2 separate regions of the Homo sapiens genome follow, and region 1 is linked to region 2. The links come from fine-mapping of genetic effects on gene expression. A gene starts in region 2. The other region holds a variant in brackets. All regions are shown on one strand. Distances are between the middles of the regions.

The links. PIP is the estimated chance that this variant, and not a neighbour inherited with it, causes the effect.
Region 1: its variant is the best candidate, but not a certain one, in a credible set for the expression of CHTOP in adrenal gland (GTEx, PIP 0.64).

What each region holds. Positions count from the first base shown.
Region 1 is chr1:153,581,278-153,584,183 of GRCh38, forward strand. No RefSeq gene overlaps it. Among named protein-coding and RNA genes, the nearest start is that of S100A2, 17 kb to the left of the region's middle. RefSeq lists an enhancer at 1,806-2,730. The variant T/G (reference allele first, on the strand shown) is at 1,665.
Region 2 is chr1:153,632,298-153,635,203 of GRCh38, forward strand. CHTOP (chromatin target of PRMT1) reads left to right here and starts at 1,769. Exons shown (of 6, transcript NM_015607.4): 1 at 1,769-2,046. It also overlaps a transcript of S100A13 not described here. RefSeq lists an enhancer at 1,743-1,852 and a silencer at 2,193-2,272.

The sequences.
Region 1 (2,906 bases), 51 kb before region 2:
TTACAGGTGTGAGCCACTGTTCCCAGCCAGGCACATCATGTTCTAAGAAAAGAAAATGATCCAGACTTATCAAAGCCAGGACATATTCTGATAAAGTTATTGCGTTAAGGAAAAATAGCTAGACTTCCATTTCTATCGATTATTTTTCTTTTCTTTCTTTTTTTCTTTTGTTTGTTTGGTTTTTTTTTTTATTTTCAACAGGGGCTTCTGCAATAGAATCTATCTGGTTAAAACATGACAGTGATACTTTTTTTATTTCACAGCTAAGTTCACATTAAAGTAAAGAAAACCCTTCTAGGCCCAAAGCGAAGGGGAAACTAAAAACCAATTAGGCGTGAGTTAATGCTACAGCTGTTCTTGGGAAGGGACGGTTTCTAATCTCAGAAAACAAGGGGCTTCAGTTTTCAAGGACCAATCGTGAAGAGATGGGTCCTTATAACTGCAAGTATCTGGGAATCCGAAAGCCACCTTACATGAAGCAAGGTGCCCCAAGTACCACTTTCTTGGTGAAAGAATGGGCTGAAAGAAAAAACCTCTCATGAGCAAAATGAGATTTCGAGGAAGCTTGTACGTCTTCGCCTGGGCTCTGGATGGAGAAAGTTTTCTTAGAGAAATTTTAACCTTGGGCCTGTCTTCATGCAGATTTGGGATTTTAGTTTACATGGCTGGAATGGTTCAGAAAACCCCAAAGCCAAGAAGTCAACATAAAAAGTAATACTAAACTGGTTTTGGCCTTGGGGCACTTGGGAAAAGCAAAACAAAATTACTTTGAAGACTTATACTCTTAAACCAGATTAACCAGGATTCCCCCAGCTAAAGCTGAGGTTGACATTTTTTAAATTAGATGAAATAGGCAGCTTTGCAGGAAAAAAAATTATATATATGTAAATTTTATATATATGTAAATTATTTATATGTAAAGCTGACCAACATTGACTAAGAAGGAGAAAATCTGAAGACCTATAATCATTAAAGAAATTGATTAGCAGTATAAATCTACCTAACAAAGATAAAATTGATGGTTTTCATAGACAAGTTTACCAAATAAGAAAAAAAATCCTTTTCCACGGTCTCCCTCTGATGCCAAGCCGAAGCTGGACTGTACTGCTGCCATCTCGGCTCACTGCAACCTCCCTGCCTGATTCTCCTGCCTCAGCCTGCCGAGTGCCTGCGATTGCAGGCGCGCGCCGCCACGCCTGACTGGTTTTTGTATTTTTTTGGTGGAGACGGGGTTTCGCTGTGTTGGCCGGGCTGGTCTCCAGCTCCTAACCGCGAGTGATCCGCCAGCCTCGGCCTCCCGAGGCGCCGGGATTGCAGACGGAGTCTCGTTCACTCAGTGCTCAATGGTGCCCAGGCTGGAATGCAGTGGCGTGATCTCGGCTCGCTACAACCACCTCCCAGCCGCCTGCCTTGGCCTCCCAAAGAGCCGAGATTGCAGCCTCTGCCCGGCCGCCACCCCGTCTGGGAAGTGAGGAGCGTCTCTGCCTGGCTGCCCATCGTCTGGGATGTGAGGAGCCCCTCTGCCTGGCTGCCCAGTCTGGAAAGTGAGGAGCGTCTCTGCCCGGCCGCCATCCCATCTAGGAAATGAGGAGCGTCTCTGCCCGGCCGCCCATCGTCTGAGATGTGGGAAGCGCCTCTGCCCCGCCGCCCCGTCTGGGATGTGA[T/G]AAGCGCCTCTGCCCGGCCGCGACCCCGTCTGAGAAGTGAGGAGACCCTCTGCCTGGCAACCGCCCCGTCTGAGAAGTGAGGAGTCCCTCCGCCCGGCAGCCACCCCGTCTGAGAAGTGAGGAGCCCCTCCCTCCGTCAGCCACCCCGTCTGGGAAGTGAGGAGCGTCTCCACCCGGCAGCCACCCCCGTCCGGGAGGGAGGTGGGGGGGTCAGCCCTCCGCCCGGCCAGCCGCCCCGTCCGGGAGGTGCGGGGCGCCTCTGCCCAACCGCCCCTACTGGGAAGTGAGGAGCCCCTCTGCCCGGCCAGCTGCCCCGTCCGGGAGGGAGGTGGGGGGGGTCAGCCCCCCGCCCGGCCAGCCGCCCCGTCCGGGAGGTGAGGGGTGCCTCTGCCCGGCCGCCTCTACTGGGAAGTGAGGAGCCCCTCTGCCCGGCCACCACCCTGTCTGGGAGGTCTACCCAACAGCTCATTGAGAACCGGCCATGATGACAATGGCGGTTTTGTGGAATAGAAAGGGCGGAAAGGTGGGGAAAAGATTGAGAAATCGGATGGTTGCCGTGTCTGTGTAGAAAGTAGACATGGGAGACTTTTCATTTTGTTCTGTACTAAGAAAAATTCTTCTGCCTTGGGATCCTGTTGATCTGTGACCTTACCCCCAACCCTGTGCTCTCTGAAACATGTGCTGTGTCCACTCAGGGTTAAATGGATTAAGGGCGGTGCAAGATGTGCTTTGTTAAACAGATGCTTGAAGGCAGCATGCTCATTAAGAGTCAACACCACTCCCTAATCTTAAGTACCCAGGGACACAAACACTGCAGAAGGCCGCAGGGTCCTCTGCCTAGGAAAACCAGAGACCTTTGTTCACTTGTTTATCTGCTGACCTTACCTCCACTATTGTCCTATGGCCCTGCCAAATCCCCCTCTGCGAGAAACACCCAAGAATGATCAATTAAAAAATAAATAAATAAATAAATTTAAAAAAAAAAAAAACAAAAGTCAGCCAAAAAAAAAAAGAAAAAAAAATCATACAAACTTAAATTTCCAGAAAATAGAAAAAGGAAATACTGCCCATATGTGGCATATATAAAATAACCTTTATGGTAGAGACTGCTAATTGTCCTATTACCTATTCTCCCCTTGTCTTTCACAGCAAAAGAATCTTTGCTTTTAAGTTCAAATAAAGGCCACACTTCCCAGCCTTCCTTGCAGCTGAGTGTAGCCATATGACTAAGTTCTGGCCAAG
Region 2 (2,906 bases):
GTCTGGCTCTGTCACCCAGGCTGGAGGGCAGTGGCACGATCTCGGCTCACTGCAACCTCCGCCTCCCAGGTTCAAGCGATTCACCTGCCTCAGCCTCCCGAGCAGCTGGGACTACAGGCGCCTGCCACCACGCCCGGCTAATTTTTTGTATTTTTAGTACAGACGGGGTTTCACCATGTTGGCCAGGATGGTCTCGATCTCCTGACCTCGTGATCCCCCCGCCTCGGCCTCCCAAAGTGCTGAGATTACAGGCATGAGCCACCGCGCTAGGCCGAAAGAATCTTCTTTCAATCAACGAACATTTACTTAAGTGGTACTATGTGTAAACACTGTAGGAACTGAGGCTCCAGCATTAAGCAAAATAACCACGATCCTTACCCTCACATGGGTAAGGATGCTGGGCCATTACTTACACACAGACACACACAAACACATACACACACGCACACGCCCAAGTGCCAGGAAGGAAAATGAAAGGGTCTTGACGTGCCAGTGGAGCAGAGGAAGGGTTGCAGATGTGTCATTCTCTCATTCCTCAAACATATGTACACTGTATTGTGCACATAGTCATTAGAAAAATCCCTTATTGAGGCCGGGCACAGTGGCTCACGACTGTAGTCCCAGCACTTTGGGAGACAGAGGCGGGCAGATCACTTGAGGTCAGGAGTTGGAGACCAGCCTGGTGAAACCCCATCTCTACTAAAAATACAAAAATTAGCGGGGCATGGTGGTACGCGCCTGTAATTCCAGCTACTCAGGAGGCTGAGGCAGGAGAATCGCTTGAACCTGGGAGGCGGAGGTTGCAGTGAGCCGAGATGGTACCACTGCACTCCAGTCTGGGTGACACAGCGAGACTCCATCTGCAAAAAGAAAAAAAAAAGAAAGAGAGAAAAATCCCTTATTGAGCAGGAAACATAGCTTATGCCCATAATCCTAGGAGTCGGGAGGCTGAGGTGAGAGGATCACCTGAGCCCAGTAGGTCAAGGCTGCAGTGATCCGTGATTCATTGCGCCACTGACTCCAGCCTGGACAACAGAGCCAGACCCCGTCTCAAAATAACAACAACAAATCAGAGAGAGAAAAGAGAAATCCCTATGTAGGTCTGCAACAAAATAAACACGGATGGCAGGTGTGGGGGGAGGACATGGAAACGCAATCGAGGACGCAAAGGTGCCCCACCCCAAGAAGGAGTAAACAGTATCTAGGCCAAGTTGGGGAGGGGAGGAAGTGAGGAGGAAAACATGGACGGGCGGTGGTGTTGGCCGGTGCAGGATGGGAGAGGAATTTGCTCCTAATACTGGCCTCCTGGGCCTTGGCTGGAGCATTTACGGCACTTCACAACTCTCAGACTGGGCGAGTGGCCATGAGGGGAAAACCAGTGCAAATTCCCCAGGCCCAATTGTCCGGAAGAAGACGAGGCAAGTCCGCGTAAAGATTTTTAGACGGTGTACCTTGGCTAGGGAACGGAGGGGCGAGGGAATTCGGGACCCAAATCCCCTCTAAGGCCCACATTAATAACTACCCCCAAGAGGTTGCAGCGCAACCACTACTGGAACGTGAAGTCCCCGGCACGCCCCAACAACAGGACCATTGGCCACGCCCCTAGGGGCGGGGCACTGCATGGAAAGCCCCGCCTTCGCCCTAAGGCTCCGCCTCTGACCTCTGCGCAGGCGTAGCTCAAATCTTTCCCGCCCTCTAGTCGTGCGCGGATCTGACGCCTGACGTAATTGCGTAGACGCCATTTTAGCCGGTCAGACAAGCACTGGACGTGGCGGCCATTTTGTTTTGGACACCGAGCAGGAGCTGGCGGCCGCTGCAGACGAAAGGCAGGAAAGGGCAGGCCGGGTGAGCAGACGGATCGGCCGACTAGACAGCCAACCAGCAACAACGAACTGAGCTCGCATACTACCGCTTACGCATCTAACCAACCGCCCATCTAGCTAACCCGAGCCCCTCCACCGTCAACTCAGGTTCGGCCGGTCCCCGGCCCGCCTGCCGGAGCCGTGGTGGCAGCCCCGGGAGGAGCACTGGCGTCTGTTTCCTTCGGTGAGTTTCGGTAGTGAGAAGGAGCCGGGGGAGGTGCGGTCTTGAGGAGCGGAAGGGGCCGGCGGACGCGGAAAGGGGGTGGTGGCATGTGGACATAGCTACGGTGTTGGAGCGTGGAGGCCCCGGGGAGGAGGCGGAGCCCCTGCGAAGGGGCGGGGGAGGGGCTGAACTGGAACCTGGTGGCGGGATTGATGGAGGTTGGGGTTTGATAGGATAAAAAGGAAACTTGGCGGGTAGAGCAGAAGTGGAAGTCTTGACAGGGCTTTGAGGATGGTAGGGAGATTAAGAAGTACAAGACTTTGAGGAATGTTGGAAATTAATGGCGGCTTTAGGGTTAAGTTTTGTGGAGGGCTCTTTGCGAGCTAATTCCCAGGTGAATTTAGAAAACCTTTCCTACTCCCCCAGATCGTCAGTTTCTTGTTAAAGTCCCTACTTGATTCTGGAGTTGAAAGCCACTTTTGAAACTAGGCATGCATATATATATGTATATATATACATACATATATATATATATTTTTTTTTGGGGGGGGACGGAGTTTCGCTCTTGTTGCCCAGGCTGGAGTGCAATGGCACGATCTCAGCTCACTACAACTTCCGCCTCCCGGGTTCAAGCGATTCTCCTGCCTCAGCCTCCGGAGTAGCTGGGATTACAGCCATGCGCCACCACGCCCGGCTAATTTTGTATTTTTAGTAGAGACATTTCTCCATGATGGTCAAGCTGGTCTCGAACTCCCAACCTCAGGTGATCCGCCCGCCTCGGCCTCCCAAAGTGCTGGGAAAACAGGCGTGAGCCACCGCGCCCGGCCCTGCCTGTATTTTCACTGTAGATCAGTGGTTCTCAACTTTAGCTGCACATTAGA